5 separate regions of the Homo sapiens genome follow, and regions 1, 2, 3 and 5 are each linked to region 4. Evidence: fine-mapped expression QTL. A gene starts in region 4. Each other region holds a variant in brackets. All regions are shown on one strand. Distances are between the middles of the regions. Region 1 holds the start of LOC105379085 (a long non-coding RNA gene). Region 2 overlaps MCTP1 (multiple C2 and transmembrane domain containing 1). Region 3 overlaps MCTP1 (multiple C2 and transmembrane domain containing 1). Region 4 holds the start of MCTP1 (multiple C2 and transmembrane domain containing 1). Region 5 overlaps SKIC3 (SKI3 subunit of superkiller complex).

The links. PIP is the estimated chance that this variant, and not a neighbour inherited with it, causes the effect.
Region 1: its variant is fine-mapped to the expression of MCTP1 in tibial artery (GTEx, PIP above 0.99).
Region 2: its variant is fine-mapped to the expression of MCTP1 in skeletal muscle (GTEx, PIP above 0.99). The same link has a PIP of 0.9 or more in esophagus muscle, left ventricle and visceral fat.
Region 3: its variant is fine-mapped to the expression of MCTP1 in whole blood (TOPMed, PIP above 0.99).
Region 5: its variant is fine-mapped to the expression of MCTP1 in cerebellum (GTEx, PIP 0.92).

The regions. Positions count from the first base shown.
Region 1 is chr5:95,134,834-95,141,252 of GRCh38, forward strand. All of the region lies in intron 1 of MCTP1 (multiple C2 and transmembrane domain containing 1), which reads right to left. It overlaps LOC105379085 (a long non-coding RNA gene), which reads left to right and starts at 3,741. Exons shown (of 8, transcript XR_948575.3): 1 at 3,741-3,911. The variant C/A (reference allele first, on the strand shown) is at 3,032.
Region 2 is chr5:95,073,736-95,080,154 of GRCh38, forward strand. The region is part of intron 1 of MCTP1 (multiple C2 and transmembrane domain containing 1); the gene reads right to left. Among named protein-coding and RNA genes, the nearest start is that of MCTP1-AS1, 98 kb to the left of the region's middle. The variant A/T (reference allele first, on the strand shown) is at 3,121.
Region 3 is chr5:94,702,030-94,708,448 of GRCh38, forward strand. It overlaps MCTP1 (multiple C2 and transmembrane domain containing 1), which reads right to left. Exons shown (of 23, transcript NM_024717.7): 23 at 1,661-5,538. The coding sequence ends at 5,467. Among named protein-coding and RNA genes, the nearest start is that of SLF1, 87 kb to the left of the region's middle. RefSeq lists an enhancer at 1,119-1,188. The variant G/C (reference allele first, on the strand shown) is at 3,174.
Region 4 is chr5:95,281,656-95,288,074 of GRCh38, forward strand. It overlaps MCTP1 (multiple C2 and transmembrane domain containing 1), which reads right to left and starts at 3,439. Exons shown (of 23, transcript NM_024717.7): 1 at 2,201-3,439. The coding sequence starts at 2,920. RefSeq lists silencers at 2,528-2,647, 2,728-2,787.
Region 5 is chr5:95,468,546-95,474,964 of GRCh38, forward strand. SKIC3 (SKI3 subunit of superkiller complex) reads right to left here. Exons shown (of 43, transcript NM_014639.4): 41 at 1,235-1,365. Among named protein-coding and RNA genes, the nearest start is that of FAM81B, 80 kb to the left of the region's middle. The variant A/G (reference allele first, on the strand shown) is at 3,109.

The DNA of each region.
Region 1 (6,419 bases), 150 kb before region 4:
AATTAATTAAAATAATCTTTCTTCTCAGTTTTCAAAATACAATTGAAGTTACTGTTTTTGACCAAATAATAGGCAGTCTCTGGAAAGCAATTGTGGTTTAATACAACCTCTAAGTTCCATTGCTCTTCAAGGATCTCGATTTACTGTTGCCTGATGGCCAAAAAAAAAAAAAAAAAAAAAAAAAAAAAAAAAAAAATTCCTTCTTTTTCCAGATCAGAAAAAAAAAAGGTCAGATTCAGATACTGAGGTATGTGAAAATCAGTATTTCACTAGATCAGGCATAGTTCCAATACCAGTATAAAGAAACAAATCTGAAAGAAAAGAAATTATGTTTGCAAAACAAATATGGAGACAGATTCTATAACTCTGGAAAGATATAGTAGATAATAAGAATACATATTCTCAACTTTTCAGTCAGGGACCATAATATCAACAAATCACAAAGAAAGAAAGAAAAATATACACTATGGTGGTGAATTGAGAATATTAATGATAACTATGACTTATTGTTTATAACCTGAATCCAAAAAGTCCTATAAAATAAACAAGTTTTCAAGTTGAATGAAATATCATTAGCTTTAGTGTGATGGTTGATACTGAGTGTCAACTTGATTGGACTGAAGGATGCAAAGTATTGTTCCCAGGTGTATCTGTGAGGGTGCTGGCAAAGGAGATTAACATTTGAGTCAGTGGGCTGGGGAAGGCAGACAATCTGATCAGCTGCCATCGAATATAAAGCAGGCAGAAAAACGTGAAGAAGCAAGACTGGCCTAGCCTCCCAGCCTACATCTTTCTCCCGTGTTGGATGCTTCCTGCCCTCAAACATCATTCTCCAAGTTCTTCAGTTTTGAGACTCGGACTGGCTCTCCATGCTCCTCAAGCTTGCAGACAACCTATTGTGGGACATTGTGTTTGTGTAAGTTAATACTTAATAAACTCCCCTTTATATATATGTGTCTGTCCTATTAGTTCTGTCCCTCTAGGGAACCCTGACTAATGCAGTAAGCATAATAGTATTTTGGTTCAATAAACTGAAAACAACTACAGTAAAAACTGGTTTATTGTTCCAAATCAGTTCATTAAACATTATACATTTCAGAGAATCACAAGCAAATGTATTGAAAGCCAACTCTGGCATCCACTTGGAAGCTTACAATTAGAGTAGATTTCAATATAATTGAAGTAGGTTTTAAAATCTGTCCCTAAACTACTTTATTATCCTCATCTCCTGCATAGCATCAGCCTTCTACCTTCCCAGAACATTTAAGCACTTGCTTCTCCTCATGTACATGTCTTGGTAATCATTATTTCTAAGCCTTGGTATCCCTTCTCCCTCTCTTCAACCTTATCCACTGGTCTTATTTCTGAAGACCCAATGAAATATCACTCCTCTGTGAATCCTTCCCTAACACCCACAAGAAGAAATAACTTGCTCCTGTGTACTCCCCCAAAACATTTTACTTCCTTTGTCTTCCCAGACAATTCTTGTTATCCTTTGGGCTGGTCTCTTAAGCAAATGGCTCTATTCATTCAGGAAGGGTTCAGGCTTGGTATCTCTGATTTGTGATGAGATGTTAAGTTAAGCTATCTGCTCAATTATGTAAAAGATGAATTGGGATGAAGAGGGAGAGGAGAAGGAAGATGGAAAACGGGAAGCTGGAGACAGAGATGAAGTGGCGAGGAAAAAAGTTGGGGACAGGGAAAATTCAAGGGGGAGGGAAGTGGGGAAGGGAGGAAATCTTTGCGGAAGGAAGTCAAGAAGAGAGAAGAGTGAGAGAAGACGCTCTAGCTCACAATAGAGTTTACAATGTGTCCGACTCTATGTTTTTAATCTTTACAATAATTTTATATGTAAATACTATTAGTATCCCTATTTTACGGATGAAGAAACTGAGACAAGGAGATTTGTGTACCTGGTCCAGAATCTCACAATTAGGAAGAGGCACAGCCAGAGCACTAACAGAGGTCTAGATGCCTTCAAGGCAGAGCAATAGTCACTACATCTTCCTGCCTCACATTGATCTGCCTTTCAGTCAACAAAGAGTAACTTCAGACTCTTGCCTGGAACTATTTCCTGATCAATTTCATCAAGACTACAATGGAGAAAAATTATATTTTGTAAAGGTTATTTGTGAAGTATATGCCACCCACTCATCTAGACAGCCTAGGTTTAAAACCTCAACAATGAAAAGAATTACTAAGGTATTTCACTTATTCATTTTCAGCTTATAGCAGAAATTCTTTCCTGAATTCCTTCAGTGTGATGCCCCCTGCTTACCTTCAGCGATGTTATAAGCAACAGCCTTATGAAATCTAGTGCTGTATTTGTTGCTGGCTTGTAGCTTAGGACCTAGAGCCTCACTAGAGGAGGCAGGAAGCTTGCTTCGGGGGAAGTATAACCTAGTGATGAAGAGGATAGATTCCGCAATTGTTCAAGCACTGCTTCCAGTTGTTACTATGTATTATGTAAAGTTTATTGGATTCTCCAAGCCTCAGCATTGTCGTCAATAACACGATAGTCCCTGGCTCACAGAGTTGCTGTGAAGATTTATGAGAGAATGCTTGTAAAACACTTTGTACCATGCCTAGCACACAGTAAGTGCTCAATACATATCATCATTAAACAGTATCCCCCAAAACTAAAGTTGCATGCAATATCTTTCAGGTCTAGATTCTAGCAAAGATTTTGCCTCTCTTAAAGAGTTGACATCCTCTTATTTGCATGGACATTGAACTTCTCTTTTAGCTTTGGCCACTACTAAGATCAAAGACAAAATTTCACCTCAACTGTGGCACATTTGTGGAAATCTATTGCTTGTATGTAGATCTCTAGTCTAATATTGTTTTCCATTTCATCTATATTTTCCCTTATTCTGATTGTCTATTAGTATATACATTATTGTAAGCTGCTTCAAATATTTGTGGAATAAAGCAAACATCATAAATGAATTAATAATTCTGCTTTTTTAATGTCTGCTCAATCACCAAAAAAGGCTGTTTCCCTAATGTGGGGAACATATTGATTCCCTGC[C/A]AAACCAAACTTGATGATTTGCAAGCAACATGTTCTTAGAAAACATTTACTGAGTACTATTCAATATTACTATTGAATAGTATGACTATTGAATTACAGGAAATATGATACTTAATAAAAGTCCTACAGAAAACACTGAAATTCCAGTTCTAGATAACAATCACGCAAATGTGTTTTCAGATTACTTCAAATTTTTTTTTCAATAGGAAGTGTTTTTCTCCCACTTTTGTTTTTCTGGTCATCTTTTACAGTAATTTCAAGTCATGCTCTTTTCTCATTCTCCCAGGAGAAGAACTGTGCTATGTCTGCTACTGAACTCACTATGATTGTGTACCAAGATGCATTCATAGACTTTCCTGTGAGATGCAACCCCCCCCCGACATTAAAATAATATGTGTTTTGGAGCTCGATGGGAATATATGAGCATTGAGACTAGCTGCGCCACTTTTTAGATGAGAAAACAAGGCCCAGAGAGCTTATGAAGATGGCAGCAGTGGAGCTGAATAAGAACACAGCCTTGTCAATCTCCATCCAGGTTTTTCTCACTATCCTCTCCTGTAACTTTCTAGAAGAGCAAGTGTCATAATGATGGAAACTAAATTAGTCGCATACACAAAGAATCATCTGTTCTTTCCGTTTAAGTTTCCTTTCTAAAATGCCTTATTATACAAACAGCAAACTATTTAAAGAGAGGTTTCCTGGAATGAGTGTTACTGGTCTGGAAGGGCCTCTGAAGAGTCCAGGAATAGGTCTGCTAACCAAAGGAATGACCCCCTCACAGAGACCACCACTGACTGCCATGTGAGCCGCCGTCCCTCCAGCTGCCCTCACTCCACCGGCTGCTCCCTCTCACATCCCTCTCTGGATTCCTTATCACAAGGTATTATTATCTTCTTTATCTTTTCTTTGTGCATTTAGGGTGTTGTCACTGCCTCTAGTGTGCAAAGTACACCCTGCCCGTTAGCTGGATAGGCAATTTTTAACTAGTTGTAATGTATGTGGACAATCTCATTATCAGTTATTTTCAATTAATTCTTTTTCTGATGTGTCGAATTTGTCACAGTCTTCATTTAGATCTGTTTCTCTATCTGTATATTATACACACATACACACACACATTATAAGGTTGTCAGTGTGATCTTAAAATTAGAGTTTATATGTTCAAAATATTTAATATTTAGAACTTGTATAAAACATTTAGGGTTTTTTTTTCCTTTCAAATAGTCGTATTAGTTTAACATCAGCTAAGAAACATAATTATGATTGAACACATCCATCAAAAAAGTTAGATCTTCATGTTAAAGCCCAAAATAAAAACTCTAAGCATAGAAAATTAATGGATGCATGCTAATTGCCAGAAACATTTGCTGCTCAAAACAAAGAAAATAGAGCTGAATTATATTATTCTTAATGTCTTTGTAATCTAGAAGGCTTTGTGAGAATATACCCAACATGAGGAAACAGGGTTAGAGATTTACAGATATTTGCATGCTTTTCTTTCCGGCAAATGCAAATTTCTTAAGGAAATAAAAAGATCTAAACATTGCACCATGTCAAATGAAAATGAGTGCAGGTGAGAGCAAGATTTGCCTGTTGCAATATCTTTGCCTCTCACTTAGGGAACAAGAGAGCTTCTTTTTTTACATTTTCCCCTTTTTTTCCAAAGCTATTTTAGCCAAAGGAATTTTTAAAAGGAGTCTCAAAATCAACCTTATTTTAAAAAGTTAATTTTAAAAAGATAAATTCTTGCTACTCACCAAAGGTTAATTTCTAGATCAAAGGTTTCTATTTTTAGTTACATATCCAAGAACACATCTAACTCTAAACAACTGCAGATCCACAGAAGCTGTTTCCTTATGAACAATGTTAAGTGGTATTGGCCCCATTTGCCACTAAACTGAGAGCTCCTTAAAAGTGAAAATTTTCCTTAATTTTTGTCTTATTATCTAGCCCACAGCCTGATGCATAGGGCTTAATAAATGGTTGAATAATAAATGAATAACGGAATGGTAATCAACTTTAATATTTACAAGCTTTGCTTTAAAAATAAAATGATCCAGAGAAGAAACAGAAAAACATCAAAATCATTAAATTTAAAAGTGTAGCTTAAAGAGAACTTGATGGTCTCCCTGAGCTGCTCTTCCATGCTGGAATCCCCTCATCCAAAGCTAAACCCACTTTCATCTCAGCTTGACCTCTACCTTCCAATGACACTCATGCTTCCAATGCAGACAAGATTTGGAATTGCAGAAAAGGCATCTCATTTCTAGAGAGGATGGATAGGCTTTTGCCTCCAGGAAAGTAATCATTCACTCTCTCTTCAAAAAAATTTATATTTGCAAAAATGTGTTTTTTGCCATCTGTTTCATTGATTCTGGTCCTGTTTTCCACAGTGCCAGCTATCATTCATGTCCTCATCTGCAACCCGGGACTTTGCAGCAGGATATTGAAGGTGTTTAAGGCAATTAGTAACACGGGAAAAAATGCACACAATTGGTACTTTTGTTACTTCTCTATAGTCCAGAAGAGACCTTAGGAGGACAGAAGGCATTTTCATCAAACAGCAAATTATTCTAAGCAGAAACTTTTAAAATAGACTGGTATTTTGAAGATTTGAAAATTTTAAAGGGTAAAAGCATATTCTTTTCAGTCTCTCAAAAACTGCTGTCACAAAACTTTTGGGCTATTTTTTTGCTTTAAGAACCATTTAACGGCCGGGCGCGATGGCTCACGCCTGTAATCCCAGTACTTCGGGAGGCCGAGGCGGGTGGATCACGAGGCAGGAGATCGAGACCATCCTGGCTAACACCGTGAAACCCTGTCCCTACTAAAAAAAAAAAAAAAAAAAAAAAAAAAAAAAAAAAAATTAGCCGGGTGTGGTGGTGGGCACCTGCAGTCCCAGCTACTCGGGAGGCTGAGGCAGGAGAATGGCGTGAACCCAGGAGGCGGAGCTTGCAGTGAGCAGAGATTGCGCCACTGCACTCCAGCCTGGGCGACAGAGCGAGACTCCGTCTCAAAAAAAAAAAAAAAAAAAAAAAAAGTGCCATTTAACGAGAATGTACTAGAAAAGATTATGCATCCCTTCTATGATCACAGTTTCAGAATGAAGTGGTTTCTAATGGAGGAGGCATAAGACAAGTCCAAGAAACTTGGTGTATCTATCCTTATCAAGAATATCATCAGCTCACCTTCACGGTAGAGGAGTTTACCTATGCCATCTCTCTTTCCTAAAAACCTTAAAGACGGGGTTATACTGATTTGAAACTTTTTTCACTTCAGCTTACTCAGGCTTATTAACTAAGAGTAAGATACATAACTTTTGACATTCAAGTAAAATCTCACTAATTTGGATTGTATAAATTTGGAATCTCTTATCAAAAGTTAACCT
Region 2 (6,419 bases), 210 kb before region 4:
TTGTTGGCATCATCAGACCCTCTCCTTGAAGCATTCTTGGTGCCCCAGGTTTTCTTAACTTGGAGTGTGTGTTAGAATTACCTGGGCTTTTCTTAAAATTTATACTCTTGCTCATGCCTGTAATCCCAGCACTTTGGGAGGCCGAGGCGGGTGAATCACGAGGTCAGGAGTTCAAGACCAGGCTGGCCAACATAGTGAAACCCCGTCTCTACTGAAAATACAAAAAAAAATTTGGCCGGGCGTGGTGGCGGGTGCCTATAATCCCAGCTACTCAGGAGGCTGAGGCAGAAGAATCGCTTGAACCTGGGAGGTGGAGGTTGCAGTGAGCAGAGATGGTGCCACTGCACTCCAGCCTGGGCGACAGAGTGAGACTCCGTCTCAAGAAAAAAAAGAAAAAAAATTACACTCTTGGGCTCTACCCATGACCTAATGATTCAGAATCTCTCAGGCGTAGGCCTGGGTACATGTAGTTTGAGCAAGATTCCCTGGTGAATCTGCTATACCATGCAGTTGAAGAGTCACTATCCCGTAAGGTGAAGGCCAAGCCCCTTAGCACCATCCACTTGAAGGTGTAGAGGACTGAGCACTTTGAAGTGCTGTTGCTTGGGTGTGGCCACCCAACTTCTGGAGGGGCCACTAAGAGAGATGGCTGGCAACTCCTAGGGCATTACTACTTTGATGACAAAGGTATAATTAATAGTTATAGAGTATTGTTTAGTAATCAATTGTCATTTGTTTTGCTAAATGATTTGGATAGGTGTATACATTTTTGCTAATACAATAATTTGTATTTATGAAGTTTGAACACGCATTTATTTTTAGGATCTGGAAAGTTGGAGCGGGTGAAGTATAACCAATCTTAGGTGTGCACAAGTGGTTAAATGTGGACCTATCTGTGTGATTACAAGTATATGTGCAGTGCCAAGTGAATAAAAATGAAGGCAGACTTTCAGGTATGCGGAAAAGCTTCTAGGTAGAATCTATGGTTCTACGTAGGGCGTAAAATATGTCCTTCCAAAAAATATGGCTCAAAAAAATGTTTCGTGGCCACAAGGAAATTAGGTCAAGCTTAAATTGATTTATGCTGTGCACAATTAACATTTTAATAAGCAGGAAAATTGAATGCAGAATTTAAATACTAAATTCAGATAGGGATGATCCTGTTGACTGATGTTGTAAAAAGATTGCAGAGGTACATGACAGCAACCCCATGCCCAGCTTGGCTCTGTCGGGAGCTGGCTGTATAATTTTGGAAAAGTCATTTAATTTGCCTGTGGCAGAATATTTTTTATTTGCAAAATGAGAGGGTTGAGCTAGTTGATCTCTAAGGCACCTTGTACTATCAACATTTTGTAAATATGAATTATACACTATTCAGGTAAAGAAAGAGATCATGGACATTTTACAGCTGGTACAACACTTTGAACTGCTTTGACTCATTGAACTGAACTTTTAAAATCAAATGGGTACTTTACATACATTTTCTCTAATCCTCACAAACTTTCAAACAGCAGGGAAACCAAAAGTAACTCTACATATCCTTGGTCTCAGCTTAAAAGTCACTTTCTCACAGAGGACTTCTCTGAGCCTATAAATATAAGTTAACTTCCCCTTTTATTCTCTCTATAATGATGTTTGGTTTTTAGTTAACTTATCAAAGTGATGTTTGGTTTTTAGTTAACCTTCTCCTTAATTTTGGTTTATAAAACTTCAATTAAAATTGTAAAATGTAAAAATAATCTCTCACGAAAACTTGCAAAAATAATAGATACAATGAGGAAGAGGTCAGAATATAATGGGAAGAATATTTTAATGCAGCAAATATAGTTTTCAGTCCTTAATTTCTGAAAAAAAATTAATGTCTGATATATAAAAAAACACCTAGATGGAGACGCTGCTCTTTGTTTTAAAGCTCCTGCCATGTGGTCTAAAACTTGTGTATATTTTTACCTTATTTAGTTATATTTGATCAGATAATTTTACGTAAAAGTTTTATCTTTGTTTCTACCCCTTAGAAAACTTGAAACAATAACTTTCTTAACACTTTCTCTCAGAAGTGACTATTCCCATTATCAGTGGCTTCCTAGTGGTAATCTGGATACTTGTGGAATTGTTATATAGCTTTCAAAAACTCTTGAATATTCATATGCTGTGTTATTTTTCAATAATTTAAAACCAGTAATAAGGCTACAGAGACTTCCTCTGTCTGGTGTATTAATGATTCTTTGCAGCTATTTACACATTTAAAGTACAGTAGTCCCCTTGTCCTCAGGAAATATGTTAGAACACCCCCAGTGGACGCCTGAAACAGTGGATTGTACTGAACCCTATATATGCTATTTTTTTCTATACATATATACCTATGATAAAGTTTAACTTATCAATTAGGCACAGTAAGAGATAACAGTAACAATAATAAAATAGAAAATTATAATGATATATTATGATAAAAGTTATATGAATGTGGCCTCTCTCTCTGTCTCTCAAAATATCATACAGTACCATGGGTAACTGAAACCTTGAAAAGCAAAACTGTAGATAAAGGGGTAATGACTACTGTACACATTTGCCATGAACATTCATTTGTTTACATTAAGCATAGCATTTTTCAAACTCCAGGTATGAGCTTAGTGAAAATTTTCCAGGTGGATTAAACTTAGAAGTAATTGTTTCAGAATTGATTTCAAGATTCACAGGAACCATTAAGCTGAAAAAGGAAAAAAAAAAAAAAAAAGGAATCCCTATCTTAAAATAGTTCAAAGACTGCTGGGAAATATGAGAACGAGTCCTTCATTGACGAATGTTGAAACTGAGTCTCAGACTGCAGTTACATGGAGTTAAGGTTTCCAGTGGGCCAGGGTAATGCTGTCCACTGATTGCTGACTTAGAACACGCTATTTCTAAGCGAGGGAAATCACCACCAGAAAACAGTGAGCCACAGAAATCAAATGTATTTCAAATAACACAACGCATCTGTACATAAAGGAATAGAATGTCCTCAAACCGTGAAAATATGCTATTTTGTTTAGGGGTGGGGGAAAAATCTATACGATAATTGGTTTTTTTCTTTTTTCTTTTTGTTTTTAATGACTCCTTTGGGTCAAAGCCAAATGTGTAATT[A/T]CCCCAGTACAGTTGTTTCCATTGTTTAAAACTTTTCACCCTATTTAGTTGTGCTTGATCAAGTATTTTTACAGGAAAATATTTTCTGTATTCCCTCCCCGCCTTGTAAACTTGAAACAATAACATCTTAATACCATCTCTGAAACTTGCAGAATTTCCTAACTCAAGCCTTTAGTCACCTTCCTTATTTTGGAAATGATCACTCACAATTGACTAATTGTGCCAAATAAATTTTGATTCCCAGACTCTTAGTTTGAGTTCTCTAATGAAATATTGTGGGGAAGAAAGCTCCCATTCCAAAATGAAAAGAGATGCTATATACTTTTGTAAACAAGCATTTAAAAATGATCTTAAGAGTACCTTTCTTTTTTGATATTCTGCCATGACTGTTTCTTCTGCATCTTGGTTATTTTCTTCATAATAAATTATAAAATAGTCAAAGTTTAACAATTCTCATTAATTTAGGTGTTCAAATTTATTTTGACCTTTTAATTTTATCCCACCTCTATCTGTCTCTTTTTTTCTCTGCATATGAATAATGTGTGTAAATATATATGTATATATCTGCACACATTTAGCTTTTGAATCAAGGAAGTAAGCAATTATGGTTCATTATATATACTTTTTTTTTTTTTGAGACGGAGTCCCACTCTGTCGCCCAGGCTGGAGTGCAGTGGCGCAATCTCGGCTCACTGCAAGCTCCACTTCCTGGGTTCACGCCATTCTCCTGCCTCAGCCTGCCGAGTAGCTGGGACTACAGGCGCTCGCCACCACGCCCAGCTAATTGTTTGTATTTTTAGTAGAGACAGGTTTTCACTGTGTTAGCCAAGATGGTCTCGATCTCCTGACCTCGTGATCCGCCCACCTCGGCCTCCCAAAGTGCTGGGATTACAGGCGTGAGCCACTGCGCCTGGCCAGTTCGTTATATATAATTTTAAAAACTAACATGAAATAGGAGGAAAGGCTTGTGGCAAGAAATGGCTTATAGCTATGTTCATTCCACATTGAAAACTATCAGACAAGAAAATATGAGATGAATTTAGGAAAACTCTTTCACATCTCATACATCATTCCTCTGGGCCCACATTCTCTAGTCTGGTCCCAATCCAGTGTCAGGTACATGAGTCATGACTCAACAGATATGGGAACACCTTCATTTATCCCTATCATCCATCTATCCATCCATCCATCCATCCATCCATCCATCCATCTTGTTTGCAAGACCCGAGGAAACATGAAGGTTTGAAAGTTACCCAAGAATTTCAAAGATAATTTGTGGAGTCTCTGGGGAAAGCAAATCAAAATGGACCTAGTTGTATAACAGACCTAAACTTCTCCATTCTACAATTCGTTCAATGTGCTCCTTCCCAAATGATGACTTTCACCAGGAAATGTTTAGGGAATGAACAGAAAAAAGGCAGACATTACATTAATCTTCTATCAAAACACAAAATTCCCTAAAGCTTTCCTGGGACTGTATCAGATAACTAAATATAGACTGAAAATTGTTTCTGCCCCACCTGCACATCAAAAACAACAACAAAAAAGGGAAATCTTGTTGTATCACCAAAGACTATGATCACCTAGGAGAGCTCTCAGTTATGTATGCTCATTCCAGACATATTTTGCGTTAATAAAAGCCCCCATCTTATGTAAATTCACGAACAACTTCAGCATATTTCTGGTTCATAAAGGCCTGGGTTTCACTAAGAATAAGAATGTTGCAGTCATTAAAATGATTAAATGTAGTAACATTAAAAAGACGTATTTTCCTCTCTGTAGTACTTTATAGCAGTCATTTCAAATTACTAAGACCAAAGGATTCTAACAGAAGGTGGCACAGAATGTAATTAAGCATCTTGGTTCTGCAGCCTACCTAGGTTCAATTCTGGTCATTCTACTACTAATTGTGTGATGTCAGGAATAACTCATTTAATTTCCTTGTACTTCAGTGTCTCCATCATAAAAAGGAAATAATAATAATAATAATAGAACCCATACCTAATAAAGTTGCTGTAAGAAAAACAGATAGTTCATAAATAGTTATTATACAGTCTGATTTAAATGCTAGGCATTATTATTATTTTCATCTTGGAGAGAAATCCCTGTAGAGTGAGATTTGGAACTTGATTTGTTATATTTCAGTATGCTGTAAATTGCCGCGAATAAATACTACTAATCCTATCCCACTAGTGAAATGACTCAAGCAAAGGGAGACTAAATGACTAATTTGAGTATCTCAACTAAATTAAGATGGAATTAAAACCCAACAAACCATCTCCATAGCTTTCCTACTTGGGTTTATCTCAGGGGGGATAAGCATTACAAATCTCAGCACTTATAACAACAGACTCTCCTGGTGAGTTCAAAATGCTTCATCTACCTTAATGTTCACAGGATCACTAACATATACTAAGCACCTATGGGAAGTATGGGACTGTCATCTAGCATTACAGTGTTTCCAAACTCTGTAGATAGAAAAACAAAATCAAAAGAAGACAAGGGCTTCATTGTCACCTCCAAAACTAGAGGTTTTCTCTGATATTACAAAGAAGTGTTGATTCTTCCCACTGCACTCCTATAGCCCAGGGTTTTGTCACATAGACCACATGCTATCTCACTGCATTTATATTTAGCAAAAATTTTAAAAGATATATGCCTATTAATTCCATCTGTTTACCTTCATCTCTTAATGGTCATATAGCTGATTTGTATAGTTCTTGGAATCAAAGCAAACATGAACTTTATTACAAAGCAGAGCTAGGATTTATTCATAAGATAGCATGATGATAAATTCCACTTATCTCTTGAAACTATACATTGCAGCACAGGATATGAAGATAGCATACACTTTTCATATTTAATAAAAAATATTTTATATTTTTTATTAAAATAAATGGTGATCATGTTTTGAATTTTTAGAAGGAATAACTTTTATTAATATCACCAGCACAAGAAAACTTTTAATTAATTGTCTTCTAAATCTTAAGAGTTAAGAGGTTTTAAAGCGAAGTTTTGTTTTCAAATCTATCATGTTCACTGGTATAGTAGGACATAAGTCATTAACTCCTCTAATTGTGAAAAGTCATCTTTTTTCTCTTCTCATAGCCTAAAAAAGAGTACAGTTATATAAATATAAAATAGCAGATCAATTCTAACAGAAAGGGTTGGAAGTTCATTGGTTGTTTACATTTTTCTTTTCTCTTTTTCAAAGATAAGCTTTGGAGGAATCTCTTTTTGCTAACCACTTTCAACAAATACAGTGTATCAAAACAATCTACCACACCACCTCCAATTTT
Region 3 (6,419 bases), 580 kb before region 4:
ACTCTTTTAAGTAGTACAACTCAGAACAATCTTTTTACAGTTGTGTTTTGTATAAATATCCTGGATACCTACATGGTAACTATAGTACAACCTGATAGTATCAATCTGTTTTTAGGGGGAAGATTTCTTACCTACCGGTCAGGGCTGTTGTCACAGTTATGGGAGGGAAATCAAGTACATATGCATTAAATGTACTATGTATCAAGTACGTAGCATCATAGTGTGCAAGATTGGATGGTGAATACTTGGTACCCCCAATCCATAAGTCAGAGTATTTTGCTTTTGCTTAAATTACCAAGCGCTGTATGTTTTGATTTTTAAAAAAAGTTTTTCTCTTACTTCTGAAAATGAATGTTTTTAAAAGTGATGTTAAGCAATTTCACACAAATAATGGAACATCACATTAATCTGTTTAAAAACTCCTTTGTCAGATATGTATAGTGTTTTCTGGATGGCTTCTCGTGTGCTTCAAAGACCCTCTTATGTTTGCTAGGTTCTCTGTTAATGGAAACTGAAGTTTGTAAGAGTTTAAGGCCAAACGTAAGAGGTAGGTATACCATTGTGTTTTTTTGCTCAGAAATTGTTAACTACTTCCTCTATTATAAAACAAAGATGACAAAATTACATACTCCGCCTTGTATAATAGCAAATAGACACTTCTTTGTAAAATTTTTCCAAGAGCTTATTAGTTCTTGACACCGATAAATTGTTTTCCATGGTTGCAGTGTTACAAGGTACACAGAGATTTTGACTTTTCATAATTACTACTATAGAAAAGAAGAATGTTTTGTGGGGCATGTAGTTATAAGGTTTCAGTTCTCTGATAGCTTTATTAAAAAGGGTTCTTTGAGCTTGGGACAAATATGTCATTTCCTTCCCCTCATCTCTCTTCTGTGGTCCAGCTGTCTCTAACAATGCTTGACTATTCTCAGGTGTCTCCAGTAATGCAAAAGGCAAGTATGAGTAGTGAGGGCCAGGTGTGCTTTTTCTATGAATTTAGCATTTCCTCCAAACCTGTCACCATTTGAACTCTGGCAAAATAAAATCCCTCAAATGGACTCAAGCCCTTTTGAGCTTGTCTTTGACTAGAAAGTGAAACTGAACCTATATTATCATCTTTCTTCACTAGTGGGAGCAAGTTCCCACTAGCAAGTGGGAGTGAGTTCCACTCAGCCAGGCCTCAGGATCTCCTTAAATGTATTCCTCCAGAGAAAAGATAGTTTTCAGGTTCACTCATTGGTTCAGGTTGGCCACTCCTTTTCTCTTTGGAAGGAACATTGAAGAATCTGTAGTAGGGGATAATTGCACTGCAATTTTAATTTTGCTACATACTGAAAAAACGTAGGCACGGCTACTTACGTAAACCATTTCCGCTTTCCTTGAAACAAATCTTTCTGCCTAATATAATAAACACTTAATTGACTAAAGCAGAACAGCAGTGTATTTTACTTTGTAAAAAATGGAGTAATAATTTTTCAGTGACATTTGGAGGTACGGATAATCATATAAATTTAAAAACCTGTCTTTACAAAAATACTGCTTGTGCATGTAATAGAACACTTCTTTTGTATGGGTTTTTGGTGGTTTTTTTGTTTTTTTCTTTTTTTTTTTAAGCTTAGAATGTCAAAGAAGAGCCCAATAAATTGAAACTCATTTGAGGTCAGTTACAATATTTGATTGTTTTTATTTTTTGATTCTTAACCCAGATCCCTCCTTTGAAAAGCACAGATAGAATCATTAAGTTCCAGGAAACCTTTCATGGTGCTCTTAGTTTCTACATTGTATGATTGCTTTGGACATTTGATAGTTTTTATTTGCATACTATTTTTTAATGAGATTTTTCAATAGTATTTCTCAAATTTTAGCCATTCAGCTGAAGTAAATCTTATGTGACTGCCTCTATTCAAATTGCCACTATATAAAAGAAACTGAGGTACCAGAGGGTAACATTTTCACCAAAAAAAAAAGAAAAAAAAATGTTTTGTTTTCTTTCAGTGAGTTACACCAATCATCCCAGGAAAAAGAATTATAATTGAAAGGAATGACACTATTGTAAGAAAGAATTTACCACATTATTTTCTATGTGGTTTTAATTCATACTTTACTGAGCAATTAGAAAAGGCTGATTCTAGATACCCTAATCAAACCAACGAATAGACATCATCTGTACACTCACTCACACTAGAGTGTGAAATCACGCTATTCATTTAAAGCCCAAGAATTTAAGCAAGTATTAATTTAGCAATACCTGAGACGTTTTTCAAGAAGTATAATGGTAGCTGTCTTTACTTGTATTTCTGGAGCAAAAAGGTATAACTGCCTTATACCTTTTTGTTTGTTCTTAATGCTTAGTCAACATTATAAACATTTAGGCCCATTTAACAAGTTTATTCGCTGAAATTACTGCCTTTGAATAACATTAATACAAATGTAGACTACTTTGAGCATAGGAGACCTTAGATATGAGATCAAAGTGGAAAAAAAGCTCCTGTGGTCCCTAGATAAGCATTTACTTCTGAGTTTTTCTTCACTTTTAAATGCAGAATAAAAATTTTATAAAAGATAATTTTAGAAATGTATCAATTAAATTTGGCTCTCACTGTACTTCAACTCCAGATTTGATTTTAGTATACAATCATTGGTTTGACCGTTGTCTATAACAGGGTCATACAGTTGGTATTCGATAAATATATCACAGAGTCCTTTTAAGAATCTCCCAACTCAGATTATCCTAGTGCATATAGAATGTTCAAAAACTGATTGATTGATTGATAGGTTCTGTAGGAATTCCAGTTTTTGAACATTCTATATGCACTAGGATAATCTGAGTTGGGAGATTCAATCAATCAATCAGTTTGAGTCTGGAACAGTACCAGAATGAATGAGAAGTACTATTATGTTCTTTTTGATAAGTGGGGAAAAATTTAAAAGCACAAATACGCATTTCTTATGAATTATCACAACGAATGTCAGTAATAGTTTATGAATATAAATAATGACTCAGTGAATTTACTCACTAAAAGATACTAAAGGAATATATTTAGTAGTTCACAATATCTATAATAGTTAGCAGTCCAAGTAGATGTTTGAGTGACATTCAGTCTCTTAAGAAATATTTACATCACAGATCTCAAAATGAAGGCAAGTCAGGCAGCTCTCAAGACAGAATTGCA[G/C]CTATGTGAGAAGGGGAAAGAAATAAATAGTTAAAATTTTAACTATACATATTCTGTTTTCAGCCTGTGAATGTAGTAGTTTCTAAAAGCAATGAAGATTTCCCTGAATATCACTTTTGTGCCTCAAGCTAGTTCTTATTCCTCTGTTAATGTCATTGGTTGCTCACCCCTCCAGAGGTATTTTCATATAAGAGTCAGAGTTTCAGGAAAAAGGTCTTATTTGTTTAAACCAAATCTGTTTTTCTCCAAGTGACATATAGTTTTTAAGAATATGCACACAATCCCTCATCAATCTCTGAACCACCAAAAAAAAAAAAAAAAGGAGTGCTGATTATACGTGGGAAAGATTATTTTCTTTTGTATTTAATACAGTGAATGTGTAGTCAGCATTACCATTGAACTAAACATCTGAAATTTGATACAGTGAAACAAATTAGTCATCTGTTAATGGTTACTATCCACTAGATACATCTGAGGTTGTAGAATATCAGGCTTATAGACATTTGAGTACACATTGTCAGCACAGAACATAAAAGTCTCACATAAGGTATAATTGAAAGTTATTTCAAACAGTTATCTCATCAATAAACTTTCTGTAGTAACATCATGTTCATGGAACATTATGTTTTTAGCAACAAACAGTGATGGTATGCAGACAGAAGCATGTCATTTTAAACATGATACATTAAATAAAGCATGTTGAGGTCAAAGCCTTTCTGTAGAAAGGGAATTTAATTGACATTCAAGCATAGTATATAAACAGATCAAAATAGTTCTATTATAAGAAATAGTATTTAACAACTTATCTCTAAAATAAAAATACTTTAAAAATCAGCTTCAATGAGATTACATTTATTGTTAAAGAATCTTCCTTTAGAGTGAAATATACATTTCTTTTAGCTTTTCTATAGTTTTTCCAGTATAACCCCCACTTTTACCCCATCCAAGTTTATTATTAATAAAGTAGTGCAAAGCATTGTCTGCTGCAATTTCAACTGAGTGTAGTCCCCTACCAAGTCAGGGAAGTAAGACATTCTCAACCAACCAAATTATTTTTTCTCCAGAGTTATGCTCCCTTAGTATACCAGGGAGTGAGATATAAAAACTACTTTAAGAGTCTTGGGAATGCAATTTTTAAGTATAGATTCTATGATAATAGTGAAACATTGATAAAGGCAACCACCACCCCCAAGCAGTTTATTTTATTTTACAAAACAGGTTTTCATGCATAATCAAGAATGATTTTTTTTAATAAATGAATGTAGTGAAACACTGGCATATCACTTAGCACACTGAATTCTCTACATTAAAATTCACACTAATAACAAAATCATAGTATGAATTAAAGCATTTCAGTAATCTAATGAGAAAGCAGGTTTTTTTTTTCTCTGAGAGCACTTGAGTATTTATTAAAATATTTTTAGATGCACAGATACAATCTGACACCAAAAGCGATATGGATATAGTTTCCTAGTATTTTTGATAACTGTACTTACTGGGTTGCTAATTTGCTAACTAACTGTATAAATTAAAGTAGTGGTAGGTATAAAAATTCAGATAGGCAATCGTTTATAAACTGGCAGTATTTATGTTATGTAGTCCTGTAGAGATTTTAAGGTTTTAGATGGAATGATTGATTGAAATTCTATAAAGAAAACTTTGTAACCTTCTGAGTATTGATTCTCTTGAGGGAGTGAATGTACCTTCACTTATTAGCTTAAAATTAGCCTAAGTCATACCTAAGTAATTTGCACAGGAGTGAATGTCGGGATCTAAAGCCAGAATATATGTTAAATTGAAATGTATCCATTCCATTATTCAGGCTTTGGAATTTCCCTCCCTTTTGAAATGTATAAAACATAGAAAAGTGTAATGGATTACTTTTCAGATAAAAAATAGTCGCATTAAAAAAAAACTTTAAAATCAAATCGACATTTACAATTGATGTAGATTTAATCAGAGCACAGGTGAGTATTTAATCCACTAGTAATTAGATAAGAATATATCTTCCAGTGTTATCATTCTTATATTTGTTCTTTCAGTGTGTTATATTATTATCCACAGCTAACAAGGTTTTGACACAGCAGTAGCAAAACCTTTATCAAGTTGAGTCTGTACAATAGAAGTATATATTCAAAGACATATGCCTTTGTACACTATTTACAGATTCTCTCGATCATGATAAAAAGGCAAAATAAATAAAAAGCAGAAAGAAAGGAAATGCTGCTGAGGCTGAGGGCTTTTTCTTTTATCTTCCCAAACAGATGCTGGTCTCCTCAGTGCTGGGAGCTGGCTAGCCAAGATTGTTTTTCTTTCTTTTATATGGGCTATGAGAAGGATCTGGTTTCAGTTCTTGGTATTGCACCTGTTTAAACAGAGTTCAGAGGAAGACTGGTCAGGTGGCCACTTTCTGGCAAAGAAAGGAACAGCAAAGGAATGAGAGACGGTGCTTGGGGGAAGAAAGTGCTCACTCTAGAAGCTGTATGGGATCTGCAGCTGAGATGCAGAAAGCAATAGAATGACAGAGCAAGAATAAGGGAAATCCTGTTGGAAAGTACATGGGGCCCTGATGTGAACTTTAGTAATGGTATTCACTGTCTATAACACATTACATTAAAAGTAAAACCATCTACATCAATTTTTTAAAGGGCTCGATAATGGTTTTTTACAATTTATCGTGTGTTTGCTTAATACAGTCTTAATCTCCATCCAGCCCACTGTCATGTCATAGCAAATGAAAAAGGTATCACTGTAACCCAGCTTCAGGATTTAAAAAAAAAAAAACAAACTTCTTTTATTTTGAAAACAGCTGATGGTTAATGGGCATTAACCTCAAAGGATTTTTGAGATATGCTCCACTCTTCAAAAAGCAGTCAGCTTTCCTCTCCTCATTGATCTCCAAAATATACTTCTTCAAAACTTACTTGTAACTCTTGCAAATTCTGGAAAGACTTTTTTTTCTTAAATGTCCACTGGCATATTTTGCTTTCATCATCTAATATTCCTGGTTTCCTCCCCTCAGGTCATACTCCCTGTCACAAACTCCAGCTGAACTAACTTGGAGGAGGATCTTCCCTGACAGCTCTGGTAGGTTCTTTATGCAACTGCTCTTTCTCCCATTCTCTGTAAGTGCTTCTTGGATAACACCCCAGGTGGGCTAAATTTCTGACTGGTAAAATCTGCTACACAGGCTTTATTAATTTTTACTCAGCTCTTCTAAAGCCTTTGAAATTAGAAGGATATAAA
Region 4 (6,419 bases):
ATTTCTCTTATGTCTATGTCGAAATGCTGATTCTCTATAATGAAAAGCTTCTTCAGAGTTATAGATCATGATAATCTCATTCGTGACAAAATATACATGCAACAATACATCACAGAACAAATTACAAATTATGATAGCTAATCCATCATAGAATTGATTGTATATAGGGATGGGGAAAAATCTCCAGAATATACGTAAACTTGCAAGGCTCTACTTTCATCAGTAAGACCAAAGACATCTAAAAAATGGAACAAGTTCTAAAAGTTGTCAAAGGTAGCTGTCATAATGGAAAAAGATTCTGGAGACTGACTTGAGTACAAAACTTCTCTCTGTCATCTACTAACTACGTGACCCTGGAAAGCTTATTTAACCTATGTGAGCATTGGTTTACGAATCTGTAAAGTGACAATCACATAGGTCTGCTGTGAGGGTTAAACTATGTAGGGCTATAAAATGCCCAGCATATGGTGAAGGCATACATAATAGTGTTAATTTAGTATCTTCTCCAGAATAAGTTTATATCTTTTGTATACAAAATTCATACTTACATAGTAGTGTTTTTTTTAATAAAGATTGACAGTTTCTGAAAACTTTTTGGCAAAAAGGAACATAAAAAATTCAGAGTTATCTATTTTTGCTTTAAAAATATCTTGGTTCAGTGAACTGTAATGTGATTTAATAAGTTAACATTCACGGTAATATGATATATACCTTTCAAAATAATTCAATTATTATTTGTTATTCTATTATCCTTGATAGTGAAAGAAAAAAATGTAAAGTTCCCCAACTCTGAAATTCTTCTACATTAGGATTATGTACACGCTCAAAAATAAATACTTCCTTTAATATATAGTATTCATCTATACTGAATTTAAAACATTCTTCTAAAACCATTTATCACTTTACTTTTAAAACCAAAAACAGGGGCTCTATCCAGTTCACTTTCAAGATGACAGGAAAGGTAAATGTATTTGGTCTTTTTGTCACTATTATCTCTACTTACTCTTCTGAGAATAAAATATTTTTCTGGATCATCAGGTGTTTGCTTACAGCAAGCAATTTTGTTTATTAAGGAACAAAACATATTCATATTCTGCTTTACTTTCTGGAGCTACACTAAGAAATCAGTCCATGAACTATAAAAACTTCCAACTGAAAGCCTATCTATTCCCGTATCTTACCCTTCAAACACAGCCTGTTTCTTTGTAGCTGAGCTTTTAATCTACTAATAACTAAAGTTTTAATGCAAGTGTCATTCATCTAACATAATTAATCAGAGTCAAAACAATGAGAAAGTGTAAGTAAACTAAGATATATTGGGAGAAAAATGTTCTTTAGGTCTCTGGCAGAGTGAAACTTCCAAAATATTTTCTAGAATTAAAATGATTTGATAAACATTTACAAAAAGAGCAGTGCCTCTTCGAAATTGAGGGAGTAAAAACGGCTATTCAGTGGGACACATTGTGGGTCCCACACATAAAATTTCTAGTAAAAGCACTTTTACAAACCTTGACTCTTGTCTGAGCAATCAACATGATGTATAAAGCAGCATACTTTAAAAAGCAAGTGCTTCAGGTGACTATTAAAACTTCACAAGGCTCATAGGAACATATGCATTTGACTAACTGGGAGGAGACGCTCCCGCTGTCCACTTGAAGGGCGGTGATCCAATTGCAGCAGGAAGGTTTAAGAAAGGGGTGCCGGATGCAGGCCTGAGATGATGCTTTCCCTGGCACAGGACCTCACATGTGCCATAATTTACCTCTCCACGTTTCTATTTCTTCCCGCCAGCCATTTGCTTCCAATGGTACCTCTCCACACCACCACACGTGATCGTAATTGTTTTTAAGTTATTGGGTTAGTTTTTTCTTTTGCCAAGATGAGATTTGGCTGGACATCTCCTTTCAGGAGAACTCTAAAAAGTACCCACTTTAGGTCTAACTTTTCATTGACTACTCAGAAAGCTTCTGGTGACAGGTATCATTTCTACCAAAAGTAAAGTCCGGGTGCAAGTCAGAACTCTTTCATCTTTGCTAAACCAGAGCGAGATGTTTTCTTTCGACTGTTTCATCTACTTAGAATTAATAGCATTTCTCCTCCCGCCTCCCGGCCCCCGCCCCCCGCTCCCCGGGTGGTGAACGCCTGAAGAGGGAGGCGTGGTCCCGCGCACCTTGTCTCCGGCCGCGCCACCGGCACTCACCTGGCTGCTGCCGTGCTCCTCGCCCGTCTCCGGGGCCCGAGACTCCGCGGGACTCCGCGCCGGCTCTGCGGGAGGAGGCGGCGGCTCCAGCAGCTGCTCCAGGCAGGCGGTGCCCGGCAGAGAGGAGCTCTTCTGGTGGCACAAGTGCGCCCCGGGGCCCTGACGCCGTGCACCCTCATCTCGGGCGCGGTCCCCCCTCGGGGGAGGCTGGGGCGAGGAGGACAGGGAGGATGAGGCGGAGGAAGAGGAAGGAGCTGAGTCGGGGGAGCGTCCGCCAGGAGGCGTCCCTCCCGCTGCTCCCGAGGCCGCCGCGGGCCCCTTTACGGCGGGGAGCAAATGCTCGCGGATCCGGCGGCGTAGCGTGGACCCCTGCTCGGCTCTGCCGGCGCCGCCGGGCTCCAGGGGCTCCGGCGACGAGCAGCACAGGTTGGGCTGCGAGGAGGAGAAGACTCGGTCCAGCACTTGCTTCCGCTTCTTGAAGCCGCTCCACCTGCTGCCTGCACCACTCCCCCTGGCCGGTGCATTCCCTGTGCCCACCGGGGGTGGCGGGGAGGGCGACGGGGTGTCCGCAGTGCGGCGCTCTGGACCCCCAGCGCGCCCGCCCCCGCCGCCCTTGCTCCTGCCCACCCCCAGCTGCAGGTTCTTCCAGAGCCGGGCCTGGAAGGAGGAGGACGCCGCCGGCGGCTCTGGCTCGCCCGCCGCGGCAGCCCGGGGCTCCATCCTCCACCCCCTGCTCCTCCTCTCCCCTCCTCCTCCTCCTCCTCCTCCTGCTTCTCCTCCCTCTTCGGCTGCACCTCCTCCCGGGTCCCCGCGGCGCTGGCGGTGGCGGCGGCGGCGGCGGCGGGCGCAGCAGCAGAAACCGGGAGTGCCCAGCGACTTCAGGCCAGCTCGGGGGAAAGAAGCGGCCGCCGCCGCCGAGGCTCTCTGGCCTCGGGACTCCGGCGCTGCCTCTTCCTCCCGCACCTGCTGGGGTGGGCTGGAGCCGTAACCGAATCCCGGCCGCGGCGCCTGCAAAGTTTTTCCCTCGAAGCTCCGCGGCTCCAGTCCACTGGCGTCCCCCAGGCCGCGCCCTGGCTCCCTCTTCTCTCTGACCGAGCTCGGGAAGCTGCACGCACCGGGGCGTGCGCGTCCAGCTGCGCCAGGGACCGCACCCGGCGCCCTCTGGGCAGCACCTGTCAGCGGCGGGGGCGGCTGCCTCCAAATTGGGCGCGCACGCGGCTCACACAACAAGGCGCGTCTGGCTGGAGACTCCGGGGACCAGCAGTCCCCCTGGGGCGCCCCGGGACCATCCTCCAGCTCCTAGGTGGGAGGGCCGGTAGGAGCCGGGTGGAGCTAGGTAGGGCCCGAAGCCAGCTTGCTCCCTAGGATCCGGCCACAGTTGCCCAGGCAGCTCGCTGTGCGCTGGCCGCTGGCCGCGCTGGCGATCGTCTGGGTCGGATGAAGCGAGCTGGAGTGGAAACTATGTGCCCTCGATGGGTCTCGTGGGGGCGCCGATCGTCCACACTGAGCGATGAACCCGACGGAGTTCTAAAGCTGAAGACGTCTGCCCCCGCCCCGTTGCGCTCCCTGGGTCCAAGACGAGAGTTTAATTTCTTCTGTCTTGACTTCATCCCCATCCACCCCTCCCTTTTCTTTATTTGCCTCTGCACTGGTCTCTTATGATCAGGTTCTAGCATTTCCGGAGTCTGACGATAAAGCCAGCCCTTAAGTTGCAGGGAGTTTACGGTGGACGAAGATGGGTGATGCGCACTGCCTTTGATCCGATTCGGCACGCACAGAATCTTGTTCTTTTCATTCAAGCGCATTTTTTCTTTGGTTACTTCATTTGCTTGTTGCAAGGCAAACGGAAAAGGCTTTTTAGCTCATTCAGACTTTGCTTCTCCCAAAGCTGCTCAGCCAGGGTCTTCTGATTCTGCTAGGAGAGACTTCTGAAAGGCCAGCAACACAATGCCTCTTTCGTCCTCCTAAATGGGGAAAACGGGAGAGTTCCCTAAGCTGCGGTAGCACACTGATCAGTCTTGTCTAGCTAGCAGTATGCTTTGGAGGTGTTACCAACCTAAGTTTTTTGTTTTGTTTTGTTTTTGTTACCTTTATAACAAATATTTATTAAGCACCTACTATATACCAGGCACTGTGATAGGCTCTGGGGATGCAGCTGTGAACAGGGCATCAGGGTCCCACCCACATGGAGCTTATTGTGAGGGTGAGGGTTGGGAGGTGATGCGAGACAATAAACAGAATTTCTAATATGCAAAAGTCCCATGGAAACAGTTAAGCAGGGTACCACATAACAGAGTGGCTACAGAGGAAGAGCTTCCAGACAAAATGCAGGACACCCAATTAAACTGACTTTCAGAGAAACAATGAATAATATTAGTATATGTATGTCCCAAATATTGCATGGGACATACTTATACTAAAATACTATTATTTATCTGAAATTTAAATTTAACTGGGTGTCATGTTTTTGTTTGCTAAATCTGGCAGCCCCATATGGAGAGGTTTTTGGTTTTTTACATTATGTGTACAGGGAGAGTCTCTCTGAGAAGATAAAATTTTGAGTTAAGACTTAATGAGGACAGAGAACCAGCTATTGACGGATCTGACTGTAGAATTTCAGGTAGAAGGAACAGCAGATACAGAGGTCCTGAGGCAGGAAGCAGCTTGACTGGGCATATTCAAGGACAGAACGATACCACTCCAAATAGAGTAGAGCAAGGTGGGTGGGGTTGGTAAGAGATGTAGTGAAACAAAAGGTCAGCTAAGGGAGTGGGTCCTATAGCCAGAGTGAGAGTCCATGTTTCCTCTAAATGAAATTGGGAGACATTAGAGGTCTTTTTTAATCGTGAGGGTAATGTGATGTGATTTACTAATACTAATGCCAGGTATTAATAAATAGCCTCACAGGGCTATTTTGAAGATTAAGTGGAAAAAGGACTTAGCTCAGTGCCTGTATATAGTTGATATTATTGTTATTTGGTAGACCCAGTATTTCCCAAGTATATGAATACTATGCTTTGGAAAAAGAGCAACGTGAATGGAGAAACACTGGGCTGCATTTAAATAATATTATTGAAATGACAAGATTATAGAGATGGATAGTGGTTGCCAGGGGTTAGCGGTGGGGCAAATGTAAAGGATCAGAATAAAGAAGTTTATTTGTTATGATGAGACAAATTTAGATTGTGGTGGTGGTTACATGAATGTGTGTTATACACAGGATAGGACTGCATAGAACTACATACATATATGAATGCACATAAAAACGTGACATCTGAATAAGATAAGTTGTACCAATGGCAATTTCCTGGGTCTTAATATTGAACTATAGTTATGTATGATAATATCATTGGGGGAAATTGGGTGAAGGTCACACAGGAGCTCTATGTAGTATGTTTGCAACTTCCTGTGAGTCCATAATTATTTTAAAATTTAAAGTATAAATAAAAGCAAACAATAATAAAGCATGTTTTTTTGAAAAAATTGTGTGCTGCTGAAAGTTTTCCTTTGGAACCTTAATAATTAGAGAATGAAACAGTCTTAGAGCTACGATGGCCTACCCTTTCTTTGTAGCTCTGTTCTGGCCAACCCCACCTAATTCCTGAGGAAGCCTCTGAGAAGCAAATGAGGGAAAAGTCAGGACTGGTGAGGCAGAGTCCACATTAGGGCAAGCTCACAACTGCAAAGGTAAACACAGAGGCTGTGAAGCACTCTCCACACAGAATAAGAAAAGCCAACCACATTTGCCTTTATGGAGGTACCTCCCCACCGGGTGAAAGCAGAAGGGTTGGCATTTTTCACTGGCTTTTCCTTCCTCTTCACTCCAGTTTCCTTTCTCTGTATTTTATTTCTGTGTTAGTCCTTACTTTTCAAAGTTTCAGGTAAACCTTTTAAAGTTTCAGTTAAAACTCTTCAGCTAAATTATAAATATCATAGCTAAGTCTAACTGTGTAAGCTGGTGGTGGCTTAAGTGTTAACTCTCTCTGGAGTATTTATGAGCTTTATATATGGGAGCTTTATAAAACTGAAAATCTCCATCAAAATAAGTAGAAACCTTCATTAAGGACTTGGCCATTCAAGGTAGTGTTAGTCTTACAAAGCGAGCTACACACCAACTTCAGAGGCTTTCGCTCCAAACCTGCATCAATCCCTTATTAAATCAATATGGAGATCATTTTCAAAAGCCCAAGGCAAACTGTCTTTTCTACACCAATCAAGC
Region 5 (6,419 bases), 190 kb after region 4:
TTTTTCTTTCCTAATTTACTAACATCTATGACTCCAAAACTTCTGTACTGCTAAAAACAACATAAACCATTAGTATATTCAGAACTGCTAAACAGAAAGATCTTCTAAGTAGCAATTAGTTTGAAGCAGGAACTAAATAACTTGTCTTGAAGATGCTTTTGCAGAGGGATCACGTAGTAAGCACGTTGTTATTTTTCTTAGACTGCATTTTTATTTGGGCTAGGTTTTGAAGGCGATAAAAATTATGGGAGGTGTTAACAAAGATTATTGGGGTAGGGGGTGAAGGGGAGATAGTACTCTCTAAGTTACCAACACTGAGCATGAGCAGAAGTAGTTCATTAGGAAGTTTAAATTATAGCCTAAAACATTTCTTAGTGAAATTAGTCACACATAAAAATGGCCCCAAATAAATAAATGTTAATAAATAGTGCTGGAGTTGCTAATCAGCCATATGGTCTTAATCTTCCACCATCCCTATTTTGTGATGTGTCTTTTGCTACATATTTATATGTACTAACCTCCATTTCTACCATACCTATTCTGTTCCAGTGATGTTTGCTCCTCAATCACTGCTTTACTTACAGATGCTTTGTATTATATGTAGTATATATTAGAACTAGATATTTTCAAAATATTAAAGTATTCTTGCCTGTATTTTTTACCCATATGATCTTTAAGTAATTTTCTTCAAATTTAAGTACACTTCTTTCAACATAAACATTGCTATAGAATTTTTGTATTTTAATCAGAGCAGCTTTTGGATTTTCTAGATAGGAAACCACATCATTTATAAACAACATATCTCTGCCTTTTCAATATTTATTACTTTTTTCATAGCTTATAACAATAGCAAGAACTGATAATGTAGCCTTGTGTTGGGGTCTTTTGGTTTTGTTTGTTTCTAGAACCCACATCACACTGTTGGTGCCTCCTAACACAGTGAAGAACAAAAACTCCAAGACCTTCTTCACTGGAAATGCTATCATGCCAAACCCCTCATGCCCTATAAATATGTATCAAATTGCCTTTTTAAACAAATATAAGGCTTTGTTTCTCCCTTACTGGATTTCTGGAACCAGTTCTTCCAAAGTAGATACAGATATATAAATACCCCCCAAAGTTTGTTAAATTGGTCTGTTACAAACTTTAAAGTTTATAATCTTTCCTTGATTATTTCCTAGAAAGATTTAAAGTGAAGAAGCATTTATAAGAAAAAGATGAAGATTCTTCATACCTTGCCCCCATTTTGCGTTTGAATTGTAACAAAGCTTGTAAAAGAACAGCCAGTGGACAAAAGCAAAGCTTCAAGGCCTCAGTTGTAGCCTCTTGAACCAAAGATGGCCAGTGATCATTGGAAATGTTAGCCTATAAAAATATAAGACAAATATTAACTCAAAGATTTGGCATATTTATTTGAAAAGTATTCAATTCAATTCTTTTTTTTTTTTTGAGACGGAGTCTCGCTCTGTCACCCAGCCTGGAGTGCAGTGGCGCGATCTCGGCTCACTTGCAAGCTCTGCCTCCCAGGTTCCCGCCATTCTCCTGCCTCAGCCTCCGGAGTAGCTGGGACTACAGGCGCCCGCCACCACACCCGGCTAATTTTTTTGTATTTTTAGTAGAGATGGGGTTTCACCATGTTAGCCAGGATGGTCTCGATCTCCTGACCTCGTGATCCGCCCACCTCGGCCTCCCAAAGTGCTGGGATTACAGGCGTGAGCCACCGCGCCCGGCCAACAATTCAATTCTTATTGAGTACCTATTTGAGCCCGTCACCATATAAATAATACAAAGAGTATAATTACTACAAAGAGATTTAAGATCTGATCCCTGCTCTAAAGGAGCTATAAAATGGGGTAGACTGGGATAAAGGAGGTTTTCAAAGAGGAGATATTTAAAAAACACTAAAATATTTGTTTAAAGAAAATGCACTATTATACTACATAGGTGAATAAAATCTATCAGTCTTGTGTCTACCAAATATACAAAACTCAATTTAACATAATTGATTCTTTAACTGGTAGTGATAAATATAGAGTTCTACATTTCAAAAATTATCTAAGGAGAGAGGAAAGGCTGAAATAAAGTATTTTAATAAACTCCCAATATAAAAAAGTACAAAACAGATCAGAGATAAAGGTATTAAATCAAAGTAATCAGTACTAAAAACTTTTTAAAAATTTTACTTTATGGCTAAGATATTAATGTATCTATATATTACTTGGGTTACAAGCTTTATTCTCTCTCATATTAGGTACTGACTCAGAAATAACAAAGGTAAGTATTTCTGAAGAAACAGTAACAAACTAAAGTGATGAACACTTTACTGAATTATGTAAAGAGAAAAAAATGCATTAAAAAGTTTCATTTAAAAAATCTCAAATTTTGACGAAGATTTCATAACCACAAGTATCTAAAATATGTATTTTAATAAAGTCAATATAGTGAGTCAATATATATAGTCTATTTCAAACATTAAATTATATAACAAAAATTAGAGCAATTATCTCTGAGTGCAGTATAGGCAATAGCAATTTGTATAATCAAGTAAGAGGAAGCTATAATGAATGTGAAAATAGACAATAGTGGTTATGATGCATCTTCTATAAATAGTGGCTACTTTGGGTACATCTGACAAAGAAAGTAAGGCAAAGCACATTCTAATACAATTATTCTTAACATCTTACTAAAAACCAGTAACATAAAACTCTCACTGGATGCTTTTAATAATATACTCTCTAAATTCTATGAAATCATATAAAACACTCTGTAAAGTTAGCCCAAAGATGACTTTATAAGGAAAAAGTTACTATATATACCTGGCATATTAAACAAAGTGATCAGAATGCACTTCTGTTTTCTTTTCCCACTACCTGTTCAACATTTATTTGAGAGATACTTTTTCTGTGTCCCTGGATGTAAATTACATTAGGCCCCATGAGTCTTATTCCATTTTTCTTACATTCATCCACAAATACAGTCTCAATTAGAATGTCCTCTTTTTTTTTTCAACACTTCAGTCTTTGCTGAAAAGTAATATTTGCACATACTTCCCTGCCCCGCCCCAATTCCCCTCAGCTCCCAGGCTAGAGTATGGTTACAGGCAGTAGC[A/G]GGTGGCTGGTTCCTTTTCCCTAGTACTGCCAACTCCTGTGGCTAATTGTAGCTTCAGGACCCTACTGAAATACTAGAAATTTGCATTTAACTGGTGCCATTGTAAGGTGGTGCCAAGCTCTCCAGGGTTGACAGATATTTAAAGCTCTTTTTCTCAATCTGGCTTTAGCAGAGACTCCCAACTTCATGGGTAGTCTCTCATCTGCAGGCCCAGCAACATAAGCTGTGGGGCCCAGTGCAAAATAAAGTGTAGGGCCCTTTGTTGAAAAATTACGAAGAGTTTCAAGATAGCAACTACAGAACATTAAATCAAGTATGATGCCCTGTGTAACTGCAGAGGCTGCATGCCCATGAAGCCAGCCCTGCTCATCTGCAGTTCCACTAATCTAGCAAATGTATTCTATTCTTCTCACTCTCTCCACATCCTCTAGCAATGTGGAAACTTCAGATTCCTTTCTGCTGACATCCCATCATCCCTCTAGGTGGCCTTAGTGAACAGGATCTAGGATAACTCCTACACCAACCCACTCTCACCACTGGCATTGCTCATTTCTGGATCTAACAAACTCTGAGAGTGTTGCTAATTCTGTCTGCAGCAACTCTCCTTCATTCCTTCCTCCCTATAGCACAAGGAGATACTCCTGCCTACCCTTGGGATTAATCTACTGTTGACCATTCTCTCCCAGAAACATGGGATCACTTTCTAAAACGCTAGCAATTCTCCTCTTCTCTGTCCTAACACCTAAGACTGAGTGCCACCGTCTCTGAAACAGTTAGATACCTGTTTATATGCTTCTAGACACATGCTTCCAGGACCCCGGAGGACACAGATTGAAGCCTCCCTCTCTCTGGTAGGACCCCCTTCCTCAACTTTGTGTGTATCTGTCTGTAGAAGCATGCCAGGGGGAAAATGGGTGAGGCAACAGCCCTCTCCAAAGAAATGTCTTCACAAATCCTTCTCTAACTCCACTCTCCTGATGCCTTTTTTTTTTTTCTAAAGTTTAACTTCAGATACAGAGGATACACGTGCAGGTTTGCTCCATGGGTATATTGCACCCAGTTAGGGAGCATAATACCCAACAGGTAGTTTATCAATCCCTGTCCCACTCCTTCACCCTCAGTGGTCCACAGTGTCTGTTGTTCCCATGTTTATGTTCACGTGTGCTCAATGTTTAGCTCCCACTTACAAGTGAGAACATGCGTATTTGATTTTCTGTCCCTGTGTTAATTCACTTAGAATTATGGCCTTCAGTTCCATCCATGTTGCTGCAAGGGGGACATGATTTCGTTCTTTTTTTTATGGCTGTATAGTATTTCCATGGTGTATATGTACCACATTTTCTTTATCTAATCCACTATATGGCACCGAGGTTGATTCCATGTCTCTGCATTGTGAATAGTGCGGTGATAAACACATGAATGCATGTGTCTTCATGGTATGATGATCTATTTTCCTTTGAGTGTATACTCAGTAATAGGATTGCTGGGTCAAATGGTAGCTTTAAGTTGAGATATCTACAAACTGCTTTCCACAGTGGCTGAACTAATTTACATCTCCACCAACAGTATATAAGCATTTAAGCATTCCCTTTTCTCTGCAGCTTCACCAGCACCTGTTATTTTTGTTGTTATTGTTTGTTTGTTTGAGACAGGGTCTCAAGCTCTGTGGCCCGGGAGAGAGTGAGAAGGCAAGATCTCAGCTCACTGCATCCCAACCTCCCGAGCTCAGGTGATTCTCCCACTTCTGCCTCCTAAGTAGCTGGGACTACAGGTGCATGCCACTACGCCTGGCTAATTTTTTCTATAGAGATGGGATTTTGCCAAGTTGTCCAGGCTGGTCTTGAACTCCTAGGCTCAAGTGATCCACCCGCTTTGGCCTCCCAAAGTGCTGGGATTACAGGCATAAGCCACCACATCCAGCCTGTTATTTTTTGACTTTTTAATAATAGCCATTCTGACTGGTGTGAAATGGTGTTTCAGTGTGGTTTTTATTTGCATTTCTCTGATGATTAATAGGGATGAGCATTTTTTCATATGTTTGTTGGCCACTTATATGTCTTCTTTTGAGAAGTGTTTGTTAATGTCCTTTAACTGTTTGTTAATGGGGTTATGCTTCTTGCTTGCTGATTTACGTTCCTTATTGATTCTGGATATTAGATCTTTGTCAGATGCATAGTTTGTGAATATTTATTTCCCATACTGTAGGTTGTCTGTTTACTCTGTACATAGTTTCTTTTGCTGTGCAGAAGCTCTTTAATTAGGTCCCACTTGTCAATTTTTGTTTTTCTTGCAACTGCTTTTGGAGGCTTAGCCAAAAAATTCTTTGCCAAGGCCGACGTCAAAAAAGGTATTTCCTAGGTTTTCTTTTAGAATTTTAATAGTTTGAGGTCTTGCATTTAAATCTTTAATCCATCTTGAGTTAGTTTGTATATATGCTGAAAGGTAAGGGTCTAATTTCATTCTTCTGCAAATGACTAGCCAGTTGACCCAATGCAATTTATTGAATAGGGGAGTCCTTTCTCCATTGCTTATTTTTGTCAGCCTTGTCAAAGATCAGATGGTTGTAGGTGTACAGCTTTATTTCTGAGTTTTCTATTCTATTCCATTGGTCAATGTGTCTGTTTTTGTAGTAGTACCAATGAATTCCCTCAGTATTTGCTTGCCCTTCACTTATTTAGTTTAGTTTCGTGGGATATGAAATTCTTGGTCAGAATTTCTTTTCATTAAGGATGCTTCAAAACAAGAAAATAAAGAAAAGAAAAAAGGAAAAAAGGATGCTGAAAATAGGTGCCAAACTCTTCTGCTTCTAGCTCGTAACATTTCTGCAGAGGTCTGCTGCTAGCCTGATGGGATTCCTCTGTATGTAATTTGACCCTCCTCTCTAGCTGCCTTTAAGACTTCTTCTTCTTTTGCATTGACCTTGGTAAATCTCATGCTATGTGCCCTGGGGATGATCATCTTGTACAGTACATAGCTGGGGTTTTCTGTATTTCTTGGATTTCTATGTCAACCTCTTTAGCAAATTTAGGAAAATTTTTGTGGACTAATATACATTTTCCAAGTTGCTCATCCTCTCTCAGGAATGCCAATGAGTTGTAGATTTGGTCTCTTTACATAATCCCATATTTCTCAGAGGTTTTGTTCATTTTAAAACATTCGCTTTTCATTATTTTTGTCTGACTGAATTGATTAAAAGAACCACTTTGTGAGCTCTGAGATTCTTTCCTCAGCTTGATGTATTCTTCTTTTAACGCTTCCAATTGTATTATGAAATTCTTGTAGTGAATTTTTCAGCTCTGGAAGTTCAGTTT